Linked DNA regions of Homo sapiens. The protein of the gene in region 6 purifies or fractionates together with the protein of the main gene of each other region. This does not show direct contact. Each region holds a gene or a part of one and is shown on either strand. Other genes may lie near its edges.

Region 1 (4,320 bases), on a different chromosome or scaffold from region 6:
GTCTAGAAAACAGTGCACACACTGGCTTAATATAGTATAGTATAGGGACATGGAGCATGTAGATGCGTTAAAAGGTCATTTTCAGATAGGCACAGTGGCTCACGCCTCTAACCCTAACACTCTGGGAGGCCGAGGCAGGAGGATCACTTCACACCAGAAGCTTAAGACCAGTCTGGGCAACAACCATCTCTATAAAAAATTAAAAAGTTAGCCAGGCAGAGTAGCACATGCCTGTAGTCCCAGCTACTCTGGAGGCTGAGGCAGGAGGATTGCCTGAGCCCAGGAGGTCAAGGCTGCAGTGAGCAATGATTATGCCACTGCACTCCAGACTGGGCAGCAGTGAGATCCTGTCTCTAAAAAAAAAAGTCATTTTCTTTTAGGTTGATTTCTTGCTATTTGGCTGTGTGGGAAGTAAATAGCACCTCGAACAAACAGGGCTTAGCACTAGTAGGTACTAAATAAATATGGATTTGGCAGAGGGCATACATTAGTTCATTTTCACACTGCTGTAAAGAACTGCCTGAGACTGGGTAACCTATAAGGGAAAGAGGTTTCATTGATTCACAGTTCTGCATGGCTGGGAAGGCCCCAGGAAACTTAACAATCATGGTGGAAGGCAAAGCAGGCACATGTTACACAGTGGCAGCAGTGAGAGAGAGAGTGTGTAGGAGGAACTGTCAAACACTTACAAAACCATCAGATCTCGTGAAAACTCACTATCGAGACCAGCATGGGGGAAACTGCCCCCATGATCCAATCACCTCCCACCAGGAACTGCCTGTTCCTGTAGGGATGTAGGGATGATGGGGATTACAGTTCGAGCTGAGATTTGGATGGGGACACAGAGCCAAACCCTATCAGGGCAGAAACCTCTAAGGCTTTATGATCGCAGATCCACTGCATTGCAGCCATCCCCTCGGTTGCACAGACATTCCCTTTCTCGCACTTTGATGCTGGAATCACTGGTCTTTTCACCTTCGTAGGAGGTGTCACTCCAGGATGTCCGGAAAGAAATCAACTTCTGCCGCAAGGTGAAGCTGCCCATCATCGGGGTGGTGGAGAACATGAGTGGCTTCATCTGTCCTAAGTGCAAGGTGAGGGCGCGTGGGGCTGCCAGGCGAGCAAGATCTTGCTCTCATGGATGAGGAAACGATCGGAAGGCTGCTCTGCAAACTATTTCTGCTTTCCCTGTCATTTTGGGAAGTGGAATCACAATTAAAATCCCTTTCTGCTGACTAAAGGAAAGTTCTTTAGGTGTTAAGGGTTCCACATTCAAACTAAGCCTTTTTTTTTTTTTTAAGTTTCTTTAAAATGTGGTCCATCCTTGTGATTCTGCAAAAAAATTATGTTTCCTCCCCTTTGAATTTGCCTTGCAGAAAGAATCTCAGATATTCCCTCCCACAACCGGGGGCGCGGAGCTCATGTGCCAGGACTTGGAGGTCCCTCTCCTCGGCAGAGTGCCCCTGGATCCGCTCATAGGTGGGTGACCCCAGTGTGGGGCGGCACCTCACTCCTCGGTCAGCCCCACAGGCACGGGTCGGGCACAACAGGGGGCGGCTACAGAGAGGGGCAATGGAAGGAGGAGGGTCAATGGGGCGCTGGAGCCAGACCCACCCTCCAGCTGGCACCCCAAGAGGCCACCGGGAGAGAGGCCGAGACCCCTGCGGGCAGGTAGCGGGAGCAAGCAGGCCTCAGGCAGAGGGGTGAGGCCTGGAAGAATGGGGTAGAGGTTGGTGAGGGTGGTGGTGGCAGGGGACTGAGGAGGGCACCCGATAGAGGGGCGGCTCCAGGGGATGCACATGGCGTCCAGGTTACAGAGGAAGGCGGCCTGAGGTGAAAATCCCTTAGGAAGGGGCCGGGCCTCCTGTGCCCGGAGAAGCCAGCACGGCACAGATGAGGCCCCTTTGTCTCCAGCACCGGGACAGACCGGAACGCGGATCACTGGCCTGCGAGCAGGGGCCAAGTTCCCAAAAAATGCTCTTCTTAAGTACGTGGGTCTCCCAGGATCCCAAGAGATGCCCACTCCCTGAGTGGCCCTGAGGCTGAAGGAGGGACGGGGTTTCACGTCTCCACCCACACGCCCGCCGGGCGCCCACTCGCCGCGGGGCGCTGGGCAGGGCCTACACTCGAAGCTGCTCCCCCAGGAGGCTGCTGTCCCCCAGGACCGCGGAGCCGGGCGGGCCTCCGTTACTGGGGCCCTTTAGTGGGGCTCCTGCGGGGCGTCCAGCACTCGCCTTTAGGTCTGAGGGGAGAACAGAGAGAGAAGGCTGGAGGGGAGGCCGGGATCCAGGAGTGCCGGCTGCACCCATGCCTCGGAACTTCCACTCCATTTGTCAGGGAACCAAGGCCAGTGTGAGGTGTCTGTGCCGGGACAGGAGAGAGGGGCCGGGCGGGTGAAGTATGGCCTGGCCAGGAGAGGGTGGGGGCCGCGTGCTTGGGGAGAGGGCGGGGCCCGTGGAGAGCCTGGAGGCGGGGAGGGCGGAGGCCACGTGGGGAGCCTTGGGGAAGGGCTGCATGGGGAGAATGGGAGCCTGTGGGAAACGACTGTCAGTGTCATGTGCCTGGGAACAGGAGGCTCAGGAGTGGCTGCCCTGGGATAGGGGTTCAGGATGAGGCCCTGGGTTCTGGCGTTGGTGTAGAAAGGAAGGGACACACACAAGAGAGAAAGTGACGGCATCTGAGGGTCAAGGTTGTCCCTGCTGCCAGTACAAGTCACCTGGAGGAGGGTCCGTCCCTCAGAGACAGTGAAGCAGGGGTGGTAGAGGGAGGCCGGGCCCTCTGGGGTGCTGCGGCTAAGGGGCTCGGGGGCTCAGGTTGTCAGCAGGTTCTGGGGTCCGTCAGGAGAAGGTGGTTCATGTCCGTGCAGTTGAGTTTTGAAGCCACAGGACATGGACAGGATTGCCAAGGGGCCGTGCAGAAAGCGGGAGCCAGGAGGACAGTGTTGGGGGATGGCTGCCTCGAGGAAGTGGTAGGGGGGTAGGGTGCGAGGGCCACTCTGAAGATGGGAACAGCCCGGGAGAACGCCAGAGACCCCATGTGCCCAGGAGGCTGTGTCCCCAAATCCTTTTTCCCTTATTCCCACATCCCACAATACTTCTCTGGCATGTGATTTCCCCAACAACATGCAGAAAAGTACAGCTGCTTTCTCAACCTTCCCCAGCATCATAAAACACTCACCAGGCAGCTTTTGCAGTGGCCGGAAGTGGTGATGAGAGCTGCCCTCTGAGGCCCCTGGAGGCAGTTGGGCTGCATGAATGGATGTGATTGGGGACAGGAGCTTGCAGCAGCCCAGGGCACATCCATTCCTGCCAGCCTGCACCTCTGCCACAGTTCAGCTCTGCCGAGATGGGATTGGTGGGCAGGACGTTTGTCAGGGGAAACATCTGTGGGAGAAAATGACAAGGGAGAGCGTTAGCCCACGATGAAGGAGTGGGGGAAGGAACATATCAGCCCGAAAGAGCATCACGGCCCATAGGAGTATCTCAGCCCCTGGAAGCATCTCAGCCCAAGGGAGCATCCCAGCCCTCAAGAGCATCTCAGCCCATGGGAGCATCCCAGCCCAAGGGAGTATCTCAGCCCACAGGAGTATCTCAGGCCACGGGAGCATCCCAACTCAAAGGAGCATCTCAGCCCACAGGAGTACCTCAGCCCATGGGAGCATCCCAGCCCAAAGGAGCATCTCAGCCCACTGGAGCATCCCAGCCCAAGGGAGTATCTCAGCCCACAGGAGTATCTCAGCCCACGGGAGCATCCCAACTCAAAGGAGCATCTCAGCCCACAGGAGTATCTCAGCCCACGGGAGCATCCCAGCCCGAAGGAGCGTCTCAGCCCACTGGAGCATCTCAGCCCATGGGAGCATCTTAGCCTGCTGGAGCACCTCAGTGTACTTTGCTTTTTGGCATCTCAGTCTGCTGGAGTATTTGTCTATTGGAGCATCTCAGTCTGCTGGAGTGTGGCAGTCTATTGGAGCATCTCAGTCTGCTGGAGTATGCCAGTCTGTTGGAGCATCTCAGTCTGCTGGAGTATTTGTCTATTGGAGAATCTCAGTCTGCTGGAGTATGCCAGTGTGTTGGAGCATCTCAGTCTGCTGGAGTATGTCAGTCTATTGGAGCATCTCAGTCTGCTGGAGTATTTGTCTATTGGAGCATCTCATTCTGCTGGAGTATTTGTCTATTGGAGCATCTCAGTCTGCTGGAGTATGTCAGTCTATTGGAGCATCTCAGTCTGCTGGAGTATGTCAGTCTATTGGAGCATCTCAGTCTGCTGGAGTATGTCAGTCTATTGGAGCATCTCAGTCTGCTGGAGTAGGTCTATTGGAGC
Region 2 (4,320 bases), on a different chromosome or scaffold from region 6:
ACAAATTTTTTAAGCATGATACAGTCACATGGCCAGAGTTAATAATCACTAGAATGAAGAAGTATTGGCATATTAACAAACACATTTGCTTTTTCCACTTAAAATTAGACTCATCCATCTCCCCCAACTCAAAAATGAAACAAAGATGGAGGGAGAACGGAATTGGGAAGGTAAGTGTCAGTTTGAGCAGTAAACCTCCCAAAATCAGCTTTATTTCTTAGCCTGTGTAAAAATTTAAAGCACACTCTAACATGTTTGTTATGGTCTTTTACTTTGCTTCCCATCCTTCAAAATCATGTGTCTTTCCTGCTTTATTTTTTATTTCAGCATAAAGATGCCTATCAAGTGATATTGGATGGTGTGAAAGGTGGTACTAAGGAAAAGCGATTAGCAGCTCAATTTATTCCGAAATTCTTTAAGCATTTTCCAGAATTGGCTGATTCTGCTATCAATGCACAGTTAGACCTCTGTGAGGATGAAGATGTATCTGTAAGTTTATGAATGACACTTCATAGCAATCTTTCAGATGTTTCTGTATGTGGCTGATACAATTGGAGTAGCAATCTGATATATCAGAGTACACAATAAAATACTATGGTATGGTCTGGCATGGCATCACACCCAGGCTTAAATTTACATATGATAAAGTGTATTAGCCTTTTTCAACACCTTTAAATTATGAAAAATGCATAGAATCTCAAAATACTTAGTTTCGCTTATCATTTATCCACTGTTAAAAATGGGTTGTGGCTCACATCTTGTTTCATAGATTGTTATTCATTGTGCATATGAAATTAGACTGTTTTTAATCAATTTGTGCTTACTTGGATATTTAAATTATTAAGTGTTATATCATAAAATGTAGTTTCACTACCCTTATATATTTTGCATGGCAGAAAAATGGTATGTGTAATAAGTGAATAGGATTACTAGATTAAAAAGAAATAGTTTTTGTTTTTTGGTTTTTGGGGGGTTTTTTGGAACAGAATTAACCAGTAATATTTCTGGCTGCTGACACAGGTTCCTAAGAATATTCAGCCGTTAGCTCTTGTCTTTTCAGATGAAACAGCGAATTGCCAACATTTCATGCAGAATTTGCTGGATATAAACCCTATACTTTTTTTGCTTTTTTAATAGAAACAGGGTTTCACTCTGTTGCCTAGACCAGAGTGCAGTTGCACATCCATAGCTCACTGCAGCCTTGAACTCCTGGGTTCATGCATTTTTTTCCACTTTAGCCTCCCAAGCAGCACAGACCACCGTTCCCAGCTGATTTTTAATTTTTTTGTAGGGTCTTGCCATGTTGTCCAGGCTGGTCTCAAACTCCTGGCCTCAAGCTATCCTCCCACCTTGGCCTTCTGAAGCATTGGGATTACAGGCGTGAGCCACCTCATCTGGCCCGCTGTACATATTTTATGTAAAAATCGAATAAGCCAAGATCAGTATTTGGAATTAAACATGCAGAATATAGCCACAAATGTTGTATTTAGTAGTCAATACTGAAAATTCTAAAGTAAACAGTTACTAGGTATAACATTGCCACAGTAGCCATTTTTTAGGAATACTATATTATAAGCCCATAGGTAGTAAAAACCTAACAGTTGCATATAATTAGCATGTAAATAGTTGTTTATAATCTCAAATCTGTCTCCTTCAGCGAGACATTGTTAACATCCCTTTTTATATTTTATTCTGTGTAACTTGAAGATTAAATTGGAGCAAATTCTCTCTTTTTTTTTTTTTTTTTTTTTGAGAAGGAGCCTTACTCTATTGGCCAGGCTGGAGTGCGGTGGTGCAATCTTGGCTCACTGCAACCTCCGCCTCCCTGGTTCAAGCGATTCTTCTGTCTTAGCCTCCCAAGTAGCTGGGACTATAGGCGTGTGCCACCACGCCTGGCTAATTTTTGTATTTTTAGTACGGACAGGGTTTCACCATATTGGCAAGGCTGGTCTCAAACTCCTGACCTCGTGATCCACCTGCTTCAGCCTCCCAAAGTGCTGGGATTACAGGTGTGAGCCACCACGCCCGGCCAATTGGAGCAAATTCTTTTTAAAACTGCTAGAAATCTGCTGTTTCATATTTTTGTGACTCGTATGCCCCTAATGATGGCTTCTCTGTGGTTTTAGTTTTCTTAAAAAGTTGAGTTTGCAGCTGGGCATGGTGACTCATGCCTGTAATCCCAACACTTTGGGAGGCTGAGGTGGGAAGATCACTTGAGCCCAGTAGTTCGAGAACAGCCTGGGCAACATAGGGAAATCCGCCTTTAAAATTAGCCAGGCGTGGAGGCTTGCGTCTATAGTCCTAGCTACTAGGGAGGCTAAGGCAAGAGGCTCTCTTGAGCCTAGAAGGTCAAGGCTACATTGAGCCATGGTTGCACCACTGCACTCCAACCTGGGCAACAGAGCAATACCTTGTCTTTAAAAAAAAAAAAAAGAAAGAAAAGAAAAAGCTGTTTGTTATTTTAAAGGTGATAGTATTTGGTTAATTTTTGTTTGAAATCATGCCCAGATTCGACGTCAAGCAATTAAAGAACTGCCTCAATTTGCCACTGGAGAAAATCTTCCTCGAGTGGCAGATATACTAACGCAACTTTTGCAGACAGGTAAGGGATTTTATTATTACCTTTTTCTCTAAATATATATCTTCTTTCTGAAATGTTGACTCTGTTTTTAGGTTTTAAATGGGGTGCAGGAGAGCTGGAGGTCCTACCTCTGATAGAGATTAAATTTCCTACTTTCATTCAGTAGTTAAAGTGTAATGATTTCTGGTTATCTAATTCCTGGTGTTGTTTTGTTTTTAATTCCGTTATGAAGGTGTAATGACTAGATTCTTTTGGGCATTTTGATATATCATAATTTTTCCCCCAATTTCCTGTAGTTTCATAATTGTAGCATCTTAATAAAAGTTTTTCAGGCATGCCAGATCGGGTTCTCAACTTACAAGGAACACGTATCTTTTTGGTACTTGAGGGAATGGCTTAAGTTATAAGTTTCCTGTCAATGTAACCTTGAGAAACTAAGTTGAATCAAGTTTGAAACTGAAGCAGATGATATTTTAAATTTGTTTTATATTCATTATGCCACTTTTTCTTTATCCAGATGACTCTGCAGAATTTAACCTAGTGAACAATGCCCTATTAAGTATATTTAAAATGGATGCAAAAGGTAAGGCCAGTTCTTATTCTGAATTGTGTTTGATGTCTTACAGAATCACAAAGTTAGGTGTTACTCATTAAGAATAAACTCTAGGGTTTACCCAGAGTTCTATTTCATAAAAATTCTAAGTATTGTGAAAAAAGTCTCCTTAGGTCAAGATGTTTATGACTAGAAAAACGAGCAGAAATAACTGCAAAAACAGATCACGTTTTTCCATTAGAAATCTGTTGGAAGAACTCCTTTTGACACTTTCAAGAAATTCTTCCAAAATACCTGGGTTTTATTATTAGTAATGATAAAAAAGGAAAGTCATGCTTAAGCTGACTATGTCTTCATGAAGAAAGCACTCTTATGGTTCAGGCTGTAGAAATTTCAGACTACTTTTAACTAGTAATGAGGATGATATTTGGGAAGTTCATTAACTTATTTGAGAAGAAATACTATAAATTGAGTTAAATGGGAAAACACCATTACACTATAGAATTGACTTGCTACAGGCAACTATTTTGTTTTGCAGGGACTTTAGGTGGGTTGTTCAGCCAAATACTTCAAGGAGAGGACATTGTTAGAGAACGAGCAATTAAATTCCTTTCTACAAAACTTAAGACTTTACCAGATGAAGTCTTAACAAAGGAAGTGGAAGAGCTTATACTAACTGAATCCAAAAAGGTGAGCTTTGGTCTTCATTTGGTGGAAATTCTCTAAAGCAAAAGAGCATACTTGACATTGGCAGTATTCGTCAATGTTATGTGTGGCTTGTGTATAAAATGATATATCATATATCCCATTGGAACCACCATAGAACTTCTAAGTTTTTCTTAGATTGAATTTAGCACTTTTGTCGGTGGTAATGATGAATCAATTTGGTAATTTAAAGGAATCTGATTACATTTAAACTTTTCGTGGTAGTGTCCTTAAAATTTGTGCAACCTCTGCAAATCACCTCCTTCAGGAAACTTTCCCTAAGTCCTACCCCTCCCTTCCATTTTAGGATACTCTCTCATAGTATTCTAAATTATTTCAAAATGAAACATCACATCAAAATGACCTGTTGTCACCTTAGCCCTTGACACTATCTGCTCTTCAAGGGTGAGACCATGCTTGTCTTTGCTCCCAGCATCTAGCATAGTTGTAGACGCTAAGATTGGCAAGGTGCGTCACAATT
Region 3 (4,320 bases), on a different chromosome or scaffold from region 6:
TGTTGCTCAGATCAACCCCTGTTGGGGGTGGGGGAAGCAAGCACACAGGGGTCAGAAAGAAAGTGACAGCTGTCATCCCCGTGGGCCTGCTGGAATCACACCTCAGGACCCTTCTGCTGGGACCACCCCACTCCAGAAGCCTCCCACCTCCCTATTCCCGCCCATGCCACATCATCACGGGGGTGTAGAGGGTATTGGGTGTTTCTGCCACTGGTCCGTGGGCCAAAGGGAGCAGAGTGGTAGTGAGGCCGTTGTCACACAAGGCTGTCATCACAGGCCACGTCTGTGCAGTGAGGTGCCACATGCTGCCTGGTGGGCTTGGTGGGGGAGGGAGGGACCCCACAGCCTTCTCCCTTGGGGCTCCCATCCCTCCTGGCTCTGGCTGCATTCTTGCCCCTGCTGGCACCCCCACAGGGAGCCCCTACAGTGCTGGACGCTTTTGCTTGTCCCACTGGCCCCTGTCTAGTGTTCTATACCCCACTCTGTGCCTAGGAGGCTGACCTCTGACCTCTCAGGCTGTACCCTGGGTTTGTTCAATGGGGAAGTGAACTTGAGATGGGGGCAGGAGGAGGGGAGTGTGGGGTGTTCATTCCCAGCCCCCTGCCTCTGCCCCAGGGCCCAGCACCCATCATGTGGCCCCTGCCCAGGACTCCTGCTCCCTGCAGTCAGGGTCTCTGCCGGAGCTAGTTGTGCTAGGGGTGGTCTCCTAACCCCACCCACACCATTGCAAACAGCCCCTCATAACCACACTCATCTGCACCTGGTCTGAACATGCCACCTGTTTCCACAGGCTGCTTCTGCCTCTGTAAGCTCGAGGTAGGGTAGAGTAGGGCAGGGAGGCAGGGGCCCTGTTTCCCAGGCCAGGGTCAGGGAAAGTCTCTTCAAGGAAGTGATCAAATGAGACTCATGAGAAGGATCCAGCCCACAAATATCTGGGCGAGGTGGAAGCAGGTGAGAGGTGGGAGCAGGATAACCAGCCTGCCTCGGGCAGAAGCTGGAGGGGACAGGGCCCAATGGCACCTGGTTTCTATGCCAGGCATGTGGCACCCCCAGTGGGGCGGGGCAGCAGGGCTCTCCCACTGCTCTTGCATCTAAGAGCCAAGGATGGTAGGTGACAGTCACACCACCCTACCTTGCGATTCAAACTGCTCCACGGCCTCTTTCACTGCCTCCTCTGGCCCCATCGCAAACTCCTCGATGTTCTCGCGCACAGCTGCATCAAAGGTCTCCTGGGCAATGCGCTTGGAGACCATCTTCGCCTGTGTTGATGTTGGCGTGCAGCCGATAGATGCTCCTGAGCTGAGAGGTTAGGGCAAAGAGAGAGCTACCTCAAGGGTGAGCAGGCAATGGCAGGGCCTGGCCACCTTGAAAACGCCACTTAGGAAGCATCTACCAGCGACCAGAGCCCTACAACCACCCTGGAGAAATTCTTCCCACCTGTTATCACAGGAAAGGGTGATATCCCTACTTCCCTAGAACTTCTGCAAATACAGAAGAGGCCGGGTGTGATGGCTTAGCCTGTAATCCCGGCACTCTGAGAGGCCGAGGTGGGAGGATCACTTGAGCCTGGGAGGTCAAGGCTGCAGTGAGCCATGATCACACTACTACACTCCAGCCTGGGCCACAGAGTGAGACCCTGTCTTGGGAAAAAAAAACAAAGTGTAGGAGAGAACACAGAGTTTACTACATTTTATCTAAGAAAGGTGGTTCTTTAATATAATGATACTAGTAATGTTATTCTGAAACTATTACGGATGTAGCAAATAATAATGATTATCTTATTAGGAATCAGAATAAAAGAAAAAAGATTCTGGCTGGGCGCAGTGGGTCAATGCCTATAATCCCAACACTTTGGGAAGCTGAGGCAGGAGGATTGCTTGAGCCCAGGAGTTCAAGACCAGCCTGGACAACATGGCAAAAGTCTGTCTCTACCAAAATAAAAATAAAAATTAGCTGAGTGTGGTGGCACATGCCTGTAGTCCCAACTACTCAGGAGGCTGAGGTAGCAGGATCGCTTGAGCCTGGGAGGCCAAGATTGCGCCACTGCACTCCAACCTGGGCAACAGAGCAAGCCCCTGACTCAAAAAGAAAAAAAAAAGATTCTAACATCGTACTATCAACTAAAAACTCGGAACTCCCTATAATTAACAATATTGTATGGTATACTTGAAATTTGCTAAGAGGGTAGATTCTAAGTGTTCTCACCACAAAAAAGAAAAAGGTAACTGTTGATTGAGGTGAGTATTTCACAATCTGCATGCATATAAAATCGTCAAGTTGTATAATGTAAACATATGCAATATATTTGTATCATTTATGTACCATATATAGTATAAGATATACACTATATTAAATACAATTCGCTGGGTGCAGTGGCGCATGCCTGTAATCCCAACACTTTGGGAGGCCGAGGCAGGTGGATGACCTGAGGTCAGGAGTTTAAGACCAGCCTGGCCAGCATGGTGAAATCCCATCTCTGCTAAAAATACAAAAATTAACCGGGCATGGTGGCGGGCACCTGTGATCCCAGCCACTCGGGAGGCTGAGGCAGGAGAATCATTTGAACCCAGGAGGCAGAGGTTGCAGTGAGCCGAGATTGCACCACTGCACACCAGCCTGGGCAACAGAGCAAGATTCCGTCTCAAAAAAAAGTACATCCTATACCTCGATAAAGTTGAGAAAAAAAATCTCAGAACTCCTATATATGAAATGGGAATATCCATATAAACCCATCATGTGTTTTCTCTTAGGTAAACAAAGATCTAATTTTCTAGTCATAGCAACTAAAAATGCCTAGGAGAAATGACAGCACAGGAGCACTGAATACCTCTAACACCATGTATGGTTTCTACCATTTCCCACGAAAAGGAGCTGGGGCCAGGGCTAGGTGGCTCACTCCTGTAATCCCAGCACTTTGGGAGGCTGAGGCAGGAAGATGGCTTGAGGCCAGGAGTTCAACACTAGCCTGGACAACATGGGGAGGCCCTGTCTCTACATAAAATCTTTAAAAACAAGGAGCCAGGGCTTCTGGAGGAATGGCTGATTCCAAGTCCCAGCAGGTCATGGGGCAGGTAACGCTGGGGTCTTGTGAGACCAGGAAGCAAGGAAGCTTCCAAACCCTAAGGGATGCCTGGTAGCTACAGATGAGACAAGTGAGCATTAAAAAAAAATCCAGTACATATCAAAATCAAAATCTGGGCCAGGTGTGGTGGCTCACGTCTGTAATCCCAGCAATCAGGGAGACCGAGGTAGGAGAACCACTTGAGCACAGAGGCGGAGGTTGCAGTGAGCCGAGATCATGCCATTGCACTCCAGCCTGGCTGACAGTCAGACGATGTTGCAAAAAAAAAAAAAAGTCAAACTCTGTGCTTTCATAATACTAAAACAAATACAGCTCAGGCTTCTGAAAACTGGCCAAGAATCCAGCTCTTGGCAGGGAGTGGTGGCATGCTCTTGTACTCCCAGCTACTACTCAGGAGGCTGAGATGGGAGGATCACTTGAATCCAGGAGTTCAAGACCAGCCTGGCCAACGTAGCGAGACACTGTCTCTACAATAATTAGTAACAATTTTTTTAAAAAAAACCTAGCACTTAACCTGCCTCCCTTGTACAAATGAGTCCCAGGTTATAAAAAGAGGATGAGGAAAAGTTCTGCTTCCGATTCCAGCTGATCAGCTGTGACAGGAGAGAAACAGATAATGATCCCACAGGATCCAAAACCATCAGGTGTAAAACTGATGGGAGCCCAACAAGGGGTAGACAGGAACTCAGTCTACTGCTTGATCTCACATCATCAAGAGAAACCAGCAACACCTACCTCCTGAACAAGAACAAAATGCACCTGTGAAGTCATCGTGCCAAAATCTCAAACCCGAATCTGATCATGCATTCAGGGCACTTCCTGCTATGATGAAACGTTCTCTATCTGCACTGCCTAGTACAGAAGCCATTGGCCTCTGTGGCTATCACACAGCTGAAGTGTGGCAGTGTGGCTGAGGAACTGAGTGTGTAATTTTATTTCATTTTAATTTGTTAATGTAAATAGCCATGTGTGACGAGTGACTATGGTATTGCACAGCACAGCTCTGACACCTTAACCAACACCATGGGGATGTGATCTGCAAAATCCCTACTAGGGAAGAGAATGTCAACTAGAGGACAAACACCCAGAGTTTTCAACAAATAAATCACAAGAACAAAGAAAAGGAGACGGAGTCTACCAACAGATGAATGGATAAAATGGTCTGTGCGCATGGTGGTATATTACTCAGCCAGAGAAAGGAATGAGGTGCTGAAGCATGCTACAATGGAGATAGACCT
Region 4 (4,320 bases), on a different chromosome or scaffold from region 6:
AAGGTATGCTTAATTGGTGATTTTATATATTTATTATAGGACTGGGCCATTTGGTATTCATTAAGAAATCTTACCATAAACTTAGGAATATTTGATAGTGTGATGAATAGGCTGATAATTTAATTGGCTGTAGTATGCTTTAGTATCAATATATCTTATTCTATTTGTTTATAAAAATTGAGAGAGAGTTACTCTGTGGGCACATACTGAGATTGATTTTGATGAGAGCTTTGATTATCCAGTCTACTCCTTCCTTTATATATTTGAGCAGACTGAGTTTATCAAGCATTCTTAACCTTAGGAGCATGGGTCCTTGGAATACTTATTATTGGGCTTTGTCAGTTGGTAGAGGGACGGGACATTCATTAACTGAAATTGCATAGTTTTTGCATGTATTTTCTAGCTGTAGAAATGTACAGAGCTTCTAAAATATGTTTGCTTCTCAGAAAGTTTAAGAACCTTCAAATTAAGTGAAACCCAAGATTTGATAGCTAATAAGTGACAAAGCCAGGACTCTAATTCTGCAATGTCATGCCTCTGGCTTTAAGTCTTATGTGCTGTTTAAAAACTACATCAATGGCAGTTTTATGGGCAATAAAGTAAGAAGTTGACAGTGTTGTTGCTTAACTGTTTCTAATGATTATCTCTCAAAGTCAAGGTAACAATGTTGTGTAATACTGTTGTCTTCTAACCCTGTAGGATGGTATTGAGCCTATGTGGGAAGATGAGAAAAACAAACGGGGAGGACGATGGCTAATTACATTGAACAAACAGCAGAGACGAAGTGACCTCGATCGCTTTTGGCTAGAGACAGTAAGGTTTTAAAAGTATAAAGCAGTTTTAGAGGTAGTTTTGGAATACTGATACTTAAGATATGTTATGTTTTACATTTGTTACTTAATTTAAGAGAAGGATGCCCAACACTAGAAAATCAGGGTCAGTAATTATTTTTGTTCTGTCATATGACTCCTGTTTATAGTACAGTGAAACATCCTACCACATTATAAGTCAGATATTTTAAGTGATTGGCAGTTGACTCTCACCACAGTAAGCTCACTGTGGTCATTTCATTAACCTCAAAATTATAGAACCTTACATTTTGTATGATTGAAGTTTTTGCAACCCTCTTACAGCATTGCTATATGTATACTAAACTTTTAAATACTTATATTTTTAGAGCGAGGGTCTTGCTCTGTTGCCCAGGCTGGAGTGCGGATATTTATTTATATGGCTCATTTCAGCCTCACCCTCTGGGTTCAAGTGATCCTCCCACTTCAGCCTCTTAAGTAGCTGGGACTACAGGTGCATGCCACCATGCCCAGCTAATTTTCTAATTTTTTTCCAGAGATGGGATCTTGCTATGTTGCCCAGGTTGGTCTCAAACTTCTGGCCTCAAGTGATCCTCCCACTTCAGCCTCCCAAAGTGCTGGAATTACAGGTGTGAGTCACTGTGCCTGTCCCACTAAACTTTTTAGATTAGTGAAGCAAATAATAAAATTGTTGTGTACTACCATTTGACCTACATGTTGTGATATTAACTGGAACTTCTGGCTTTACAAGACAAATTAAATATGAGATAATAAGCATTTTCTGTAGACAGAGGTTCCAAACCCCAAGCTTATAGGAGCGGGGTTTGTAGTCTCTTTTGTATCCCTAGCACTTGAAACCGTGCCTGGTTTATAGTTAGCACTTGTTAAGTTAATCACTTTAAATGTTTGAATAAGTGACTATTTTGCTTTTTTTTAGAGACAGGGTCTTGTTCTGTCGCCCAGGCTAGAGTGCAGTGGGGCCATCATAGCTCACTGTAGCCTCCTGGGTTCAAGCAATCATCCTGCCTTAGCCTCTCAAGTAGCTGGGACTACAGGTGCATGCCAGCACAGCCAGCTAATGAATGAATGACTTTTTAAGAAGAAAATTCTGTTTTTGAGGGGGAAGATCATGAGCAAATACCATTTTTGAATTCCACATTAAAAAGTCAGGACATTTCCATTTTGCAGTTAAAAAAAATCTTCTGGAGATGGATGGTAGTAGGGATGGTTGTACAACAATGTTGAATGTACTTAACACCACTGAACTGTACACTTAAAGGTGGTTAAAATGGTAAATTTTATGTTATTTGTATTTTACCACAATTAAGAAATCTGTTAGGGCTGGGCTCACACCTGTGATCTCAACACTTCAGGAGGCTGAGGCAGGCATTTCACTTAAACTCAGGAGTTCAAGACCAGTTTGGGCAACATGGCAAAACCCTGTCTCTACAAAAAATACAAAAATTAACTGGGTATGGTGACATGTCCCTGTATGTATGCCCACCTACTCAGGAGGCTGAGGTGGAAGGATCATTTGAGCCCAGGAGGTTGAGGCTGCAGTGAGCTGTGATGATCCCACTGCACTCCAGCCAGGGTGACAGAGCAAGACCCTGTCTCAAACAACAACAACAACAAAAAACCAGACCATTAACAAATATTCATAAAAAATAAGAACAAGAGGAGATTAACCATGAATAGCTATTTTTATTATTCTATTAATATTTGTTTGCTCATAAATATAAGCAGCAGCAGAGCAAATGAATATTAATAAAATCAGCTTTTATGTCTGCCATGACATTAACTGCCAAATTTGCTGAAAAAGGCTGATTTGATAGTAAATAAATGAATGAGTATTTAAAAGTCAGGACAGATCAATATATGCAAATAAAATTTACACATTTAAAAAATTAACTCTTGATTTAAAAACTGCCTTTAGTTTCTATGCAAATACAGAAGAGACATTTGCAGTGTAATGAGCTTGTTTATAATCTATTAAATGTAATTTGGGATTTTTTTTTAAGCTTCTGTGCCTTATTGGAGAATCTTTTGATGACTACAGTGATGATGTATGTGGCGCTGTTGTTAATGTTAGAGCTAAAGGTGATAAGATAGCAATATGGACTACTGAATGTGAAAACAGAGAAGCTGTTACACATATAGGGTAAGTTTTGCTCTTTGCCTACTTATTTTACAGTATTAAGATGAGTAAAACCAGAAGTTATTTTATTTGTAGCTTTAGAAATACTTCAGTTTGTAGATCCTGTTTTCCTTGTATTGTTTTCGTGAACACTTTTATAATTTTGAACGGCTCAATTGGTGCGCAACGTCTTGTTTTTTTGGGTTTTTTCACAGCTATTTATTTATTTATTTATTTAGAGATAGAGTCTCACTCTGTTGTCCAGGCTATATATAGTACAGTGGCATGATCTAGGCTCACTGCAACCTCCGCCTCCCGGGTTCAGGAGATTGTTATGTCTCAGCCTCCCGAGTAGCTGGGAATACAGGCGCATGCCACCATGCTTGGGTAATTTTTATATTTTTAGTAGAGACCAGGTTTTGCCACGTTGGCCAGGCTGGTCTTTTAACTTTTGGTCTCAAGTGATCCGTCCACCTCAGCCTCCCAAAGTGCTATCATTACAGGCATGAGCCACTGCGCCTGGCCTTTTTCATATGTTTTTTATTTCTGTAAAATTGCTTTTTCTTAGCAGTGAAGTATATAACCACTAGAGCACTCTCCTTTGGCATGTAGCATTTTTTATTCATTCACAAATGAGAATGTATTATTTCCTACTTTGAAAGTGCTGTTTGGAAAAAAGTACTACTTTGAAAAGAGCTAATGTATGCTCATAATAATAATTCAGTGATTATTGGCAAATAGTATATGTGCATTTAAAGCATGTGTGTTTACTACGTATAATTTTCATTAAAATTTATATAACATATCTTGGTTTTTGTTCCATGTTTAAAACCCACATATGTAGGGTTTTATTAAACCTTTTTTTGTAAATTTTATTCTTTGCAAAAGTGGCTTTTTTTTTTTTTTTGAGACAGGGTCTCACTGTGTTATTCAGGCAAGAGTGCAGTGGTGCAGTCATGGCTCACTTCAGCCTCAACCTCCTGGGCTCAGGTGATACTCCTACCTCAGCCACCCAATTAGCTGCAACTACAGGTGTGTATGACCACACCTGGCTATTTTCTTGTATTTTTTGTAGAGAAGAGGTTTTGCCATGTTGCCCAGACTGGTCATGAACTCCTGGACTTGATCAAGCCACCTCAGCCTTTCAAAGTGCTGAGATTACAGGCGTGAGCCACCATGCTAAACCAGCTGACATTTTTTTTCTAAGATTTCTTTTTACCTCAATTATATTAGTAATATTTGACACCAGGCGCAGTGGCTCACACCTGTAATCGCAGCACTTTGGGAGGCTGAGGCAGGTGGATCACAAGGTCAGGAGATTGAGACCATCCTGGCCAACACGGTGAAACCCCGTCTCTACTAAAAATACAAAAA
Region 5 (4,320 bases), on a different chromosome or scaffold from region 6:
TAAAATTGCTGAGAGGGGTTAGATCTATAAGGTACCTCAATTAACTGTGTCTTTTAATATATAAAAATGTAAAAAGTGAGTGGGTTTAGAATAGAAGAAAAATGTACAAGTACATATCTTCTAAAGAAAATAGGGTTTTAAAACATCAAACTCAAATTTTAGTTAAAGAGCTTACAGTTTAACAAAAGACTTAGAATGAATCCTGGAACACAGACTAAGATTAGGTGCTTTGAAATTTCTGAAAGATAATATACATTCATTTTTACTGATTTTTAAAAACTGTTTTCCCCTATAGTTTTAGAAATAGCTTTGAAATCAAACCTAATAATTTTAAGACTTTTGGTACTCATGGTTTTATGATATATATTCCTTTTATACTGATCATCAGGTTTGGGCTAAGTCATAAAAGTACAAGCTTTACTCATAAGGAACTCAAACTTTTTTCATATTACTTGGTTATCTTTTGAAATACCCATAATCCCTTCACTTGAATCTTAAATCTTGTATTAATGGAACACGATATGCATATTTGATTTATCTATCAGTTGTATATTCTAAAAGTTACATATCTACAACGTGAGTACAAAATATTATCAATGGAATATTTTTACAAATCCATAAGGTTTGCGTAGAAACAAGTTCTAAAGAAAACAAAACAAAGTCGCATTCTGCTTATTTTCCTTCTTTGTTTAAAATATCACTGCATCAGAATTTTTAAAGGTTCATTAACAAGTATTAATCAAACTCTCTCTAGCTAGCAGTTAATGGTTTTTCTGTTGTTGTTTTTTGCTTTTTTGTGATGGAGTCTTGCTCTGTCACCCAGGCTGGAGTGCAATGGCGCAATCTTGGCTCGCTGCAACCTTGGCCTCCTGGGTTCAAGGGATTCTCTGCCTCAGCCTCACGAGTAGCTGGGATTACAGTCGTGCACCACCACCACCGGCTAATTTGTTGTACCTGTACTAGAGATGGGGTTTCACCATGTTGGTCAGGCTGGTCTTGAACTCCTGACCTCAGGTAATCCGCCCACCTCGGCCTCCCAAGGTGCTAGGATTACAGGCATGAGCCACCGCGCCCGGCCTTAATGGGTCTTTTAAAGCTCAACAGTTATCTGACTGTTACACTCCCAAATGAAAGGTTCAATAGCAGTAGTGAACTGAGATTCCAAAATTAATTTGTCCAGTGATTTTTTTTTAAAGCCCATATTTTACAGCATAGGGTCCAACTGACAGTTGCCATTATTAAAATTTTAAAATATTTTGGGAAGGTATGATATCTTTAGCCAATGCAACATAATTAATCCTGCAAATAGTAGCACAACTTGAGGAAAAATAGTCCAGAAAATGGTGTGAGAGACGAAACTCCTAATTGCCTTTGAACTTTAAAATATAAACTGCGTGGGAATCTTTTAGAATAGATGTTACCCTTTTTATGACAGGAACATACTCGATTGGAAATTCAGCATATGTAATGGCTGAATCCAAAGCTAGGCTCTCTTTATGGATCTATTATTTTGTAGTTCCATGTTATTTTGATAGCTGAACTGAATGTGAGGGTGGTTTATCTTTCTTCTTCAGAGTCTAGAGGAATGTTTCTCTGACTTTAATGTGCACATTAGTCACCTGGAAATCTGTTAAAGTACAGATTCTGATTCATTGGGTTTGGGGTGGAGCCTGAGACCCTGCCTGTCTAGTGAGCTCCCAGTGCTGATGCTGCTGCTGTGCCTGGGCTACACTGACCAGGGTGTTGCCCACTACTGATGTGCCTATATTGTTGAAGTCTGAAGAAACACTATGAAGCTTATTGGCAAATTTTTCTAATATTTAAGATAATTGAAGTTTTTAAGATTCCTCATCCATGTGTATCCTTAAAAAAAGGCTATGGGGTAATAAATAGTACTTGGCTTTTCTTACCTTCTTTAACTCTTAAAAAACAAAGATTTCCAGCCGGGCCTGGTGGCTCACGCCTGTAATCCCAGCACTTTGGGAGGCCGAGGCGGGCAGATCACGAGGTCAGGAGATCAAGACCATCCTGGCTAACACGGTGAAACCCCGTCTCTACTAAAAATACAAAAAAAAAAAAAAAAAAATAGTGGCGGGCGCCTGTAGTCCCAGCTACTCTGGGAGGCTGAGGCAGGAGAATGGCGTGAACCCCGGAGGCGGAGCTTGCAGTGAGCGAGATTGCGCCACTGCACTCCAGCCTGGGTGACGGAGTGAGACTCCATCTCAAAAACAAAAAACACAAAAAAACCCCAAAGATTTCCATTATTTTCTTTGCACTGTTTAATGTCCATAATCTTGTCCCCCCAGATTGGCTGTTGTGGCCTTAGAAACTTCTTATAAAGACTATAAAATGTCTGGAGGCACTTCTCCACTTCCGGGGGTAACTGGAAGCAGGCTAGCAGGCACAAATAATCTCAAATTGTTGTTAAAGCCTGGCACAAAATGTATTTCTTGTAAACTGGTATTTATGGTGATTTGGGAACGTAATTACTCTTCTGCAGCCTTCATCTCAAAATACAAAAATAGTGTAAGGAGTCATTTTAAGATCATCCAACATCATTTACATTACTTGATAAAAAGTGGGCAAAAGGTTAAAGTATTCTGCCACTTTTCTGTTTCATAGCTCTCAGCTGAGAACAGTATAGGATACCAGTGGGTCCGAAACAGGTCCCATCCACATGCTCCCTCCTTTTCCCTTCCCATTTCCTTTCTTTACTAATTCTTCTACCATACTTTTTAGTCTTGGAAGCCACAGCCCTGTCTTTGCTACTGCTTCAGTCCTGTATTGCATGGCATGACTGTGCTTCTGAACAACAGATGCCTTTTGTTTACATAAATATTTAAGTAATGGTTTTTTTTAAATGCATGATTATTTTTTAACTCTAGTTAAGCATCCCTGGATAAGTGACAGTTTGGCTAAGTTAGTGAAAGTTATTTACATAATTTATATATTTATTACCTGTGACAAATAGTTTTTCCTTTTTTCCATTAATGGTATTTATTATTTTGTATAACCTAAACTGACTTTTAATGTTACATTAATATTGACTGACCCAATTACTTTATTAAAAATAGTGGTCAGTTCAGGTAATTGGGGCATATAGTGACATGGGGCAAAAAAAGGATCAAATTAACTTAAATGTTTTTCTAGTTGGCCCTTAAATTCTTGAGCATTTAACCCTTCAAAAATTTTTGAGCAACTACAAAAATGTTTTGTAATTAGTTTAGAAAGCATCCTTACAAAATTAGATCCATCTCAGAAATATGAGACGCCATGTAATACAAAGTTTTGCAACGATGTCTCCTCAGGTTGAAAACAGATGTGCCACAGGAAGACACTTCTTAATGTAAAAGTCCAGAGACATCTGAAAATACATGATGTCATAAAGTTGATTTCTAGATAATATTACATGGATTTGATACATACTCAATGTATTCCCTCAAAATTGAGGGTGTTAGGCCGGGTTTGGTGGCTCACGCCTGTAATCCCAGCAACTTTGTGAGGCCGAGGCAGGCCGATGGCTTGAGCTCAGGAGTTTGAGATCAGCCTGGGCAACATAGTGAGATGCTGTGTCTTGAAAAAAAAAAAAAAAAAAAAAAAAAAAATCAAGAGTGCTAGAGACCGGTACCATTTCTCCCCAACAATCTGTTATTCCTTGAAAACATTTTGACATGAATCACTTCATGCAAAATGGCTTCAAAGATAAACATATTAAACAGGAATTTCCAGTCTGTTTATCTGCTGGATGATCTATATGACTTCAAAGTTCAAGTAGCTTCTAGCACAAAATTCATGTTTCCAGTCCTTCAGTGAGAATGAGAAAGTCTTAAGTTATGAACCTAATTCTCAGCTTTCCTGCTACTCTCTTACACTGGATTTTATCCCACTTGTTATGCTACTCGTTTCTTTTTGGTTTGAAGTCACTATTTTATTCAGCCGTTTTCTCTTCCTCTGTTCAGCACATACCTAACTGATGAGACCCACAGAGAAGTAAAATTTACTTCTCTCTGAGAAGGAGAGATGAGAGAAAGGTTTGCTTTTATCATTAAAAGGTATCTGTTTTCTGTTGTTTATTTTCAGATGTCCTTTCTTTTGAAAAATATTCAGTGGATATATAGATATCAATAACCTGAGCAAAGAGATATTGGCAGTAAATATCAAAGAGGAAATTTACATTCCTGTTCCCTTTGCTAAATTATTGATGTGTTCTTATACCATTCCCTTTGAAAACATAATGTGTACTGACAGGCTTTGACGTAGGCTTTAAATAGAGTTATGTTCCCCTAGTCCTTTTATCAGACGATCTCACTTCTACCTTGT
Region 6 (4,320 bases):
CTGAAGAGGAGCAGCCCATTATGAGAGGGCTCCGAGAACAACCTGCTAGGACTGCACTTTTCCTCCACCTCTGAGTTTGCCCGGAGGCTGCCATGCTGGCAGGAAATGCTGCTGACTAAAAGAAACGCTCCCTGTGTGTCCCAGCCAGTGCGAGGACAGAGGCCTTCATTTTCAGATAAAGTCATCACCATTGCTTCCCTGTCTCCTTCTTTCCCTCTTTGCTTTTCCCTCAGTTTATAAATATTCTCAAGCCTGTCTCTTATGTTTAAATGACAAAAGAGAACAAAACAAAACACTCTCCCTACTTCTTTCTCCTCTGGCTACTCGGTTATCTCGTTTCTTCCTTTCACTGCTAAATTGTTGGAAGGAACCTCCCATTCCCTCTCAGCCCACTGCAGTCTGGCTTCTGCCCTTTCCCTAAGAAACCCAAGTTACTCTCTGAAATCACTGTGACTCTTCTGTGGCCAGAGCCAGTGGACACTGCAGTCCTTTTCTCTGCTCTCTGCAGGGTTAGGTGCCATCTTTCATTCTCCTTTTGGAAAGGCATTTGCTTGAGCTTCCATGCCATGCCTTCCTTCTGGACTTCCTGTACTCCCTTGCCTGCCCCAGATCCACATCTCTGTCTGTCTGAAGCTTCAATTACCACATCAAATGCTGAGGGTCTTCCTGACTGTATACCAGTGTTTGGACTACCTTTTTAATGTCTTCGTTTGAATGTTTCACAGGAACTTCATACAGTTAAACTCATTGTCTCTCCACCCTGGCCTCAGTCCTAATCTTGTTTCTTCTATATTCATCATCTTTAGAGCCCTCAAGGGCAAAACCTGCTGGCCATCCTATACTTTCCTGTCTTTGTCCATCTCTCACATCTGTTTGGTCACCAAGTCCTAAATACTCCACCTCCTTGAGATCTTCTTTGATTTGACTCTGACTCTTCATGTCAGCCACCACTGGTTTAGTTCAGGCCCTTATCGATTCTTATTTGGATTATTGTAATAATTTCCTAACCAGGTTCCTTTTTTCCATTCTTGTTTCTGGCTGTAGTGTGCATTGCTACCAGAAAGATACTGCTATACCAAAATTCTTGATCACGTTGCTCCCAGGCTGAAATGCCTTTAGTAGCTCTCCCGTCACCCTCAAGACTTAATTTGAAGCACAGTGTTTAAGGTCTTTTGGGAATTGTCTCTTGCCTCCCTTTTCAGCCACATCTTGTAATTTCCAGTCTCAGGACAGACTCTCCAGCCAGTGGGAACCTTTTGCAGTTGCTGAAATGCCTCTTCTAGGCAAGATTTCCCTCTGCTTGGAACACCATTCCAAGACCCTTCCCTTCCATTTTTCATCTATGTAGCAAAGAGCTCTGTCTTTTCTTTTAAATATTGCCCTTATTGAAGTATAATATGCATGTGGAAAAGTGTACATATAAAAAATGTATATCTTGGTGCATGTTCATGAATTGAACACACCATGTAACCAGCACCCTGACTGGGCCTCTCTTCTCATACCCTGAACAAGTGATTTCTTGTCACACAAACAATCTCTGCCTCTAGAGCCCCCCTCCCCCCTTGCCCTTCAGGCTCTGTTGGGTCTTTCGCTCCCTGGCAGTTGTCACACTATCTGCAAATTGTATTTTCCTTGCCAGCCTGGCTCTAGACTGTTAAGTCTTCCTTGAGGACAGGGTCTCTCATCTCCCTACCCTGCATGTCATAATAGATATTTAATAAATGTTTTCTGGATGAAGTTCTGAGTTTTGGGGATAAATACTCCTTCCTCACCTTGTGGAGGAGGAACATTGCCTGACGTCTAAAAATTTGCCTCACTGGATCCTGAGGATTTGATCTTGCCCGTGGTTAATGATGGGGTTTATTTAGTTGCGTTTGGGCCAATCAGCTTAAAGGGCTCTGTAGAAATTAGCTCATTAATCCTCACAGATCAAGAGTAAGCACTTTGAGTGCGTCCACCTGCCTGTGTTGTGGAGGTAGGCAGGCAGAGGCCTGGCTCTCCTGAGGTCTTAGGACTGAGAGGTGGCCTTTCTGGCTGGATTAAAGGACCCAGAGCTCCCTGCCACAGTTCTGGCATCCGTAGACATTGTAGGGTGGAGTGGGGAAGTCCCACACTGCCCTTCAAAAGCTCTAGAGCTTTCTTTTCTTTTGTATATCAGTGATCTCTCTCTCTTGCTGTTCATGTATTTATATATAACACTCACCTTGAAGTTCTGTGGAGCCTCTTCCTGTGTAGGAATCAGGGCTGCTGGAGACGATCAGGGATGCAGGTGAAACACAGGAGCAGAATTGCAGAACAAGTGGCTTTCAAAGGTTGTTAGGATGGCAGGAGTTCTATTTTTATAACTTATAAGGGACTGACATGATAGGATGGCTGTGGTACCTGCTAAGACCATAGAACCGGGTCATTCTAATAGATGTTATAATTCCTTTACAGTGTACTTTTTGGGAAAGTTTTTTTTTCCTATTTAAATAAAATTCTCCATGTAATCATGTGAAGTCATACGTTTTCCTCTAGGATAGTTGTGTTTAGATTATACCAAAACAGCTCTTAGTTGAAGTGATTCAAGTGTTTCTTTTTTCCCTATCTGCCATCAATTGGCCAAGTTTTTGATACTAGACAAGAATTCAATATATTAATTAAAAAGTCATTTCAGACTTGGCTTAACTGAAAAGCAGAAGAGAAAAATCCTTTAGAGAATGGATTGGCATACTTTATTTCTAGAGTCGATTTAGATAAATACTTTGGAATCCGATGTGAGTAAATGATATGTTTCACATTTCTTCTCACTTGCCAAACAGTTATTTGAGAATAAACTCTGGCTTAGCTTTAAGAAACTTCTTGGACATTGAGGATTGAGATTAATTGACCTTTTAAACTGATTGTGTATTTTGATATATGGGAAAACATTTTAAGATAGAAATGGTAGAGACCTCTACATTCATATTATCCCTGACTTTATTTTCAAACTTCTTCCAGGTAAGTGGCATTTAGTATAACTCTCAGAAGCCTAGTATTGGGGGTGCTCATGTGATTCTTCCCTTAGGTAAAAAATATACATTTTATTGACATTTATGGGTTTAGGTTTCTAACTTTTAGTTACCACTGGAGCTATTTGTCAGAAAAAACTAGATGGAAAGTAGAGGTGGATGACTTTCTGCCCTGTGAATGATAGATCTTCATTCAGGGAGTATTTTGGAGCCAGTGACCTGTGACAGTTGTGAGACTTCTCATAATCATTCTGTGGATGGTTGGGGTCTTAGAAGAAGTAATGATTTTGTTTTGAACTGGTTGCATCAGTTTGAACCAGAGTTTGTACTAAGGGTATTCCAACTGCTTTATTTCCTACTCTGTTTAGTCTGGGGATTGAAAAAGGATTACATTTTGGGTAGGTTGGTGCCTATTGACCTATCCTGTGTAGCTTAGATTTTAATTTGAATCATCTGGTTCTCTTTCTTTCTCTCAGGCAATGTCACTATCTCTGTTTGTTTAATTATGGGGTGACTCAAGAAAGCAAAGGAAGAGGAGCAGCAGACGGGGTTTCCTGGGGAAGGAATGGCAGGTCATGGCTGGTTTTTATAAGTGAGTTCCTAAGTGAGAAGTGGTACAAGAATATAGAGAGAATTAGGAAATTTAATTTTAGAAGAGACCAAAGGAAAAAAAATCCATCCCAGCTGCTTTGTCTTGTAACTGAAAACTCTCTAATGGCCAAAGTTGAAGAAACTTGCCTATGGTCCCAAAGTCCTTAGAATCCCAGGCTCCAACCCTTCATGCTAAAAACTCTCAATAAATTAGGTATTGATGGGACGTATCTCAAAATAATAAGAGCTATCTATGACAGACCCACAGCCAATATCATACTGAATGGGCAAAAACTGGAAGCATTCCCTTTGAAAACTGGCACAAGACAGGGATGCACTCTCTCACCACTCCTATTCAACATAGTGTTGGAAGTTCTGGCCAGGGCAATCAGGCAGGAGAAGGAAATAAAGGGTATTCAGTTAGGAAAAGAGGAAGTCAAATTGTCCCTGTTTGCAGATGACATGACTGTGTATCTAGAAAACCCCATTGTCTCAGCCCAAAATCTCCTTAAGCTGATAGGCAACTTCAGCAAAGTCTCAGGATACAAAATCAATGTGCAAAAATCACAAGCATTCTTATACACCAATAACAGACAAACAGAGAGCCAAATCATGAGTGAACTCCATCCACAATTGCTTCAAAGAGAATAAAATACCTAGGAATCCAGCTTACAAGGGATGTGAAGGACCTCTTCAAGGAGAACTACAAACCACTGCTCAATGAATAAAAGAGGATACA
Region 7 (4,320 bases), on a different chromosome or scaffold from region 6:
TTCCCTTCTATGGTTATGTGGTTGTATCAGTAGTCAGTAGAGAAAATAGTAAAGATAAGTTTCTACTGTTTTAGAATATGTGAACTTTTACTCTAAATATATGTATATTTTATCAAGATGTTAATTGTTTGGCCAAAACCTCATTGGTTAAAAAAAGTATACATTTCAAAGATAACTGGCTAGATATGGAAGGTGTTGGCTTAGATTAAAGGAAAACTGGACTATAGAAGTAATTTTAGTTCTATTCTGGAGGCTGATATAGTGTCCTATGACTAGCGTCTTAGAAACAGAAAGGGCTGTCTCATCCTGGGAGTTGGGGAACCCAGAGGCTCATGTTAAAGGCAACAGGATGGCCAGCACTTTGGGAGGCTGAGGTGGGAGGATCACTTGAGGCCAGGAGTTCAAGACCAACCTGGCTAACATGGTGAAACCCCGTCTTTACTAAAAATACAGAATTAACTGGGCATGGTAATTTTGAGCCTGTAATCCCAGCTACTTGGGAGGCTGAGGCAGGAGAATTGCTTGAATCCAGGTGGTGGAGGTTGCAGTGAGCTGAGATGGTGCCACCGCACTCTAGCCTGCATAACAGAGTGAGACTCTGTCTTCAGAAGTAAATAAATAAATAAAGACAACCGGACAGGTGCCTGTGTGCCTCTCTTAAAATCTTCGGAAAGATCTCTTTGCTGCCAAGACTTGTGCTTAGCCCTCTATTCAGAGGCTGGTTATGGGGCAGCGGCCTTCTCTTGGCCACCCTGCCCTTGCAGATGAGGGGCGGGCACTGGGAGCATGTTATCACCTTACCTGGTATGTGATATGTGGGAGTCTCCCAGTTCCCAGACTTCACCAAATCACTGCCCAAATTCTCATCAAGTGACCAGTAGTGGGGAAGTGACTGAACGCTGAGGAGACAATCTTTGTGGTGACGCCATGTGTGTACGTGGCAGTGATCCCCAAGATATTTTTACAAGGGGTCAAGTGAAAAATCATACTTTTTTCCCTTCTGTCTCACCCTTGTCTTATGTTTTTCATACACAAAAACTTACACTTCTCCCTCTCTGTAGCCTTCCAGGATTAAGGGAGGTTCAGATTTTCTAAGTCCTGTCAATCCACTTTAAAGAAGCTGCTTAATAAAGACCCTGCTATCATGATGTTAGAGAATTGTATCTTTCTGGTGGGATAATGAGCGTGGGCCCACTGGGAATTGTTTCTTATCATTTCTTCCCCCTGTAGGTCTGAAGGACACACCAACTCAGGAAGACTGGCTGGTGAGTGTGCTTCCTGAAGGATCCAGGGTTGGTGTGGACCCCTTGATCATTCCTACAGGTAAGTGAGCTTGGTCCCTTTCTGCTTGGGTAAGGAAGTGGCTTCTAGATTCCCCTCCATTCTCCTCATTTGCTTGTGGGGTGTGGAGCACTGGGGGGCTCAGCATGACTGATTTTATAGTAGAGGTCAGGGTGAAGAGAAGAGTTCCACTGGTGGTGAAGATGTGCTTTTACAGTTCCTCATCCTGCACACCCAGCTCTGGGCCATGGCAGGACCACCTTTCTGAAGGTTCTGGACTTTCAAGGCCCTGCTCCCTGCCCTGCTGCAATGGGCGTTCGGCTCATGGCTGGGCCACAATGTGTCTCCTCAGATTATTGGAAGAAAATGGCCAAAGTTCTGAGAAGTGCCGGCCATCACCTCATTCCTGTCAAGGAGAACCTCGTTGACAAAATCTGGACAGACCGTCCTGAGCGCCCTTGCAAGCCTCTCCTCACACTGGGCCTGGATTACACAGGTCAGAATCAATGGTTCTGCCCAGCAGGGCCCCTGCCATTGTCCCCCCACCTCTTGCTATTGTCTCCAGCCTCGTCCTCCGAATCCAAGTCGAGTTGGAGCTGACAGGAGGATTTTGCCCTACTCTGCCCCAGTGGGATATTTGAAGAAGCAGGAGCTTTGTTTGTTTCCACTGTTGCCACCTACTTGCCACTTAGTTTGGCTTTGGTTATTTTCGCAAAGCTCGTTTGGGTGGCTTTTTGGGTGCTGCTGAAAAGACTGAGTTTTTTTTATCCACTCAGCTGCTAACTGCCACTCGAACGTATTTGATATTGGAAATAGAGCATAGAGGTTTCTAGGTTCCATTTCCCTTCTTATGTCAGCATTTGTAGATTTACCTTCCTAGGCCTTTGTCCTCCATCTTGTACCTTCTGCTTTAGAGGCTTTGGGGTGTGGGTGTGTTTCCTTGGCCTGTGCGATAGTGATGGGTAAGCAGCATGTTCTCTGAACCATTGTGTGGATTTATGAAGCAGTGAGGGGGCAGAGAGAGAGGCCTGGAGGTGGGGCTGCAGGGGAGGGCGTCTTGCTGTAGAAACAGAGGTAGATGGGGGATGGCTGTGGAATGTAGGCAGATTGCCCAGAGGGGTCCTGGGAAGAAAGCGTGACAGCCTAGATTCTGGGCCAAGTTTTAAACAGCATTCCCGAACTGATCTTCAGTGCAGCCCTGGGTGTGGGGGCAGCCCCAGCCTGCTTTCTTGTGTGACATCCTCACCAGAGGGGTATTGCGGAATGGGGAGGATGGGTCCAGTGAGTGGCCCAGGGTCAGCTAAATATTTTCCATCAGCGTGGTTTGAAGTTTTTTTCACTAGAGCAGAAGCTCTGACTTGTTGCTTATAGGAGAGGGGAGAGCAAATGTTGCTGTTCAGTACACATTTGGGTGCCTACTATCTGCAGGATGCTGTGCGAGGTGCTGAGTGAATAAGACAGATGCCCACCCTGCTCACAGGTGGCTGTTCCCTGAGTTATGAATGCTGCCCTGGTAGGGTGGTTGTGGTGGCAATGGGGTGAGCTCCTCTAGCACCACGATTTCATCTTGCAGAGCAACAGAGAGGCCTTGGCAGTGTCTGAAAGGGCAAGTGTGATTTGGAAGTGGTAATCACAGTGAGTCAGACTACAGGGAATTCCTAGGTCTTAGCACTGAAAGGCAAGTCTTGCAGCCCCCAGGAACATCAAGTGGTGGGTGCTGTTCCCCTGACCCCTGAGACTGGGTGAGTTCCCTTTGCTGGGTAGTGTGTTGATATAGGTCCCTGTGTGTCCCCTGTTGCATCAGTATTTACAGTAGTGTGTTAATTGCTGGTTTAATTATCTGTCTTCCCTTCTATATTGTAAGCCCCATGAAGACAGGGACTGGGTCTGGCTCAGATCTGTAACCACAGTGACCAGCAGAGTGCCTGGCACGTATCTATGCCTGGCAGATCTAGATGTTACACAGGCATTTGTGGGATGCGTAAATGAATGAATTTTACTGGTGAGGCAATCAAGGCTCACGACAGTCAAGTGGCTTGGACACTTCTTGTATAGGGCTTGAATCCAGGCCTCCTGCCTGTTTAAGTAGCGTGCTCCTGTAAGAAATGGTGCTGATTAAAGATGTTTAGGGTAGGTTCTTTCACTGGGTTCCTACTGCTTTCTGGGACCAGGGCTGGAGTTAAAGCACATTTGTTTCTTGCAGGCATCTCCTGGAAGGACAAGGTTGCAGACCTTCGGTTGAAAATGGCTGAGAGGAACGTCATGTGGTTTGTGGTCACTGCCTTGGATGAGATTGCGTGTGAGTGCTCTGGTTTCGCTGTTTGGGCATGTTACCCGATCTCTCCTTTGGGTCTCTGGGTATCTGTGTGTTCATGCCATTCAACTTTCTGAGTGGCCAGGGAATAAGAAGAAGACTACGTCACCAAATGGGTATAGGAGATGCCAACTAGGATGAAGGAGAAAGAATTACAGGGAGCTGGGGAGGGGAGTGAGGCTTGTCCAGAGCAGTATTACAGCTGGGTGATGCCCACCTCTGGCCAGTCCCTCAGGACCATGGCACCTCTGAGGAAGGGCATTTCCTACAAATATTTTATGTCTGTCAGCCTCTGTAGGTGTAGAAGTGGGCTCATAGGAGAGGCCTTCTTTCTTTACACTTGTCCTGTGGTTTCCTAAGGTCTTTATAGTGAGAATGTTCTGGGAGCATTTCTACCTCAGAAAACTAGGAACTAAAAGTTCCTCCCCAAGCCCTTTGATGTAATAGTAGTTTCTCAGTCTTTGGACCTTAACCCACCTTCATGCAGTTGTTCAGCACCTTCTTTCATCTAAAACCTGACGGAATCTGGTTGAACCTTCCTGTCCTGTCTTCTGGTTTCTGAGTGGATTTGACCCAGGGCAACTGAGAAGAGGCACTGCTTTATCTTTTTGCCTTCTCACTAGAGAATGAGACCCTACTGCAGTGTCCTCTCTCTTCAGTCCCTGCATCTTCCATCCACAAAACATTGTCAAGTGTGTCAGTGACTTACATCCCTAATTAACTTA

Evidence for each region.
Region 1: the proteins of STK39 (region 6) and NUBP1 fractionate together in Homo sapiens (co-fractionation; one large-scale study listed by BioGRID). This does not show direct contact.
Region 2: the proteins of STK39 (region 6) and API5 fractionate together in Homo sapiens (co-fractionation; one large-scale study listed by BioGRID). This does not show direct contact.
Region 3: the proteins of STK39 (region 6) and ARMC6 purify together in Homo sapiens (co-immunoprecipitation; one large-scale study listed by IntAct). This does not show direct contact.
Region 4: the proteins of STK39 (region 6) and EIF4E purify together in Homo sapiens (co-immunoprecipitation; one large-scale study listed by IntAct). This does not show direct contact.
Region 5: the proteins of STK39 (region 6) and CD46 purify together in Homo sapiens (co-immunoprecipitation; one study listed by IntAct). This does not show direct contact.
Region 7: the proteins of STK39 (region 6) and XPNPEP1 fractionate together in Homo sapiens (co-fractionation; one large-scale study listed by BioGRID). This does not show direct contact.

The regions. Positions count from the first base shown.
Region 1 is NC_000016.10:10,760,381-10,764,700, forward strand, and holds part of NUBP1 (cytosolic Fe-S cluster assembly factor NUBP1), read left to right. Parts: intron 1-531; exon of another isoform or gene 532-983; coding exon 984-1,094; exon of another isoform or gene 1,095-1,188; intron 1,189-1,376; coding exon 1,377-1,479; coding exon of another isoform or gene 1,480-1,483; intron 1,484-2,136; exon of another isoform or gene 2,137-4,320. UniProt on the Homo sapiens protein: Component of the cytosolic iron-sulfur (Fe/S) protein assembly (CIA) machinery. Required for maturation of extramitochondrial Fe-S proteins.
Region 2 is NC_000011.10:43,318,313-43,322,632, forward strand, and holds part of API5 (apoptosis inhibitor 5), read left to right. Parts: intron 1-108; exon of another isoform or gene 109-170; intron 171-327; coding exon 328-489; intron 490-2,508; coding exon 2,509-2,602; intron 2,603-3,098; coding exon 3,099-3,164; intron 3,165-3,672; coding exon 3,673-3,824; intron 3,825-4,320. UniProt on the Homo sapiens protein: Antiapoptotic factor that may have a role in protein assembly. Negatively regulates ACIN1. By binding to ACIN1, it suppresses ACIN1 cleavage from CASP3 and ACIN1-mediated DNA fragmentation. Also known to efficiently suppress E2F1-induced apoptosis.
Region 3 is NC_000019.10:19,039,690-19,044,009, reverse strand, and holds part of ARMC6 (armadillo repeat-containing protein 6), read right to left. Parts: intron 1,325-4,320; exon of another isoform or gene 1,300-1,324; coding exon 1,133-1,299; intron 19-1,132; coding exon 1-18.
Region 4 is NC_000004.12:98,883,572-98,887,891, reverse strand, and holds part of EIF4E (eukaryotic translation initiation factor 4E), read left to right. Parts: coding exon 1-3; intron 4-699; coding exon 700-813; intron 814-1,345; coding exon of another isoform or gene 1,346-1,438; intron 1,439-2,830; coding exon 2,831-2,970; intron 2,971-4,320. UniProt on the Homo sapiens protein: Acts in the cytoplasm to initiate and regulate protein synthesis and is required in the nucleus for export of a subset of mRNAs from the nucleus to the cytoplasm which promotes processes such as RNA capping, processing and splicing.
Region 5 is NC_000001.11:207,786,294-207,790,613, forward strand, and holds part of CD46 (membrane cofactor protein isoform 3 precursor), read left to right. Parts: intron 1-3,959; coding exon 3,960-4,011; 3' UTR 4,012-4,052; exon of another isoform or gene 4,053-4,068; intron 4,069-4,320. UniProt on the Homo sapiens protein: Acts as a cofactor for complement factor I, a serine protease which protects autologous cells against complement-mediated injury by cleaving C3b and C4b deposited on host tissue.
Region 6 is NC_000002.12:168,237,102-168,241,421, reverse strand, and holds part of STK39 (STE20/SPS1-related proline-alanine-rich protein kinase), read left to right. Parts: intron 1-4,320. UniProt on the Homo sapiens protein: Effector serine/threonine-protein kinase component of the WNK-SPAK/OSR1 kinase cascade, which is involved in various processes, such as ion transport, response to hypertonic stress and blood pressure.
Region 7 is NC_000010.11:109,885,506-109,889,825, reverse strand, and holds part of XPNPEP1 (xaa-Pro aminopeptidase 1), read left to right. Parts: intron 1-1,230; coding exon 1,231-1,323; intron 1,324-1,633; coding exon 1,634-1,777; intron 1,778-3,484; coding exon 3,485-3,580; intron 3,581-4,320. UniProt on the Homo sapiens protein: Metalloaminopeptidase that catalyzes the removal of a penultimate prolyl residue from the N-termini of peptides, such as Arg-Pro-Pro. Contributes to the degradation of bradykinin.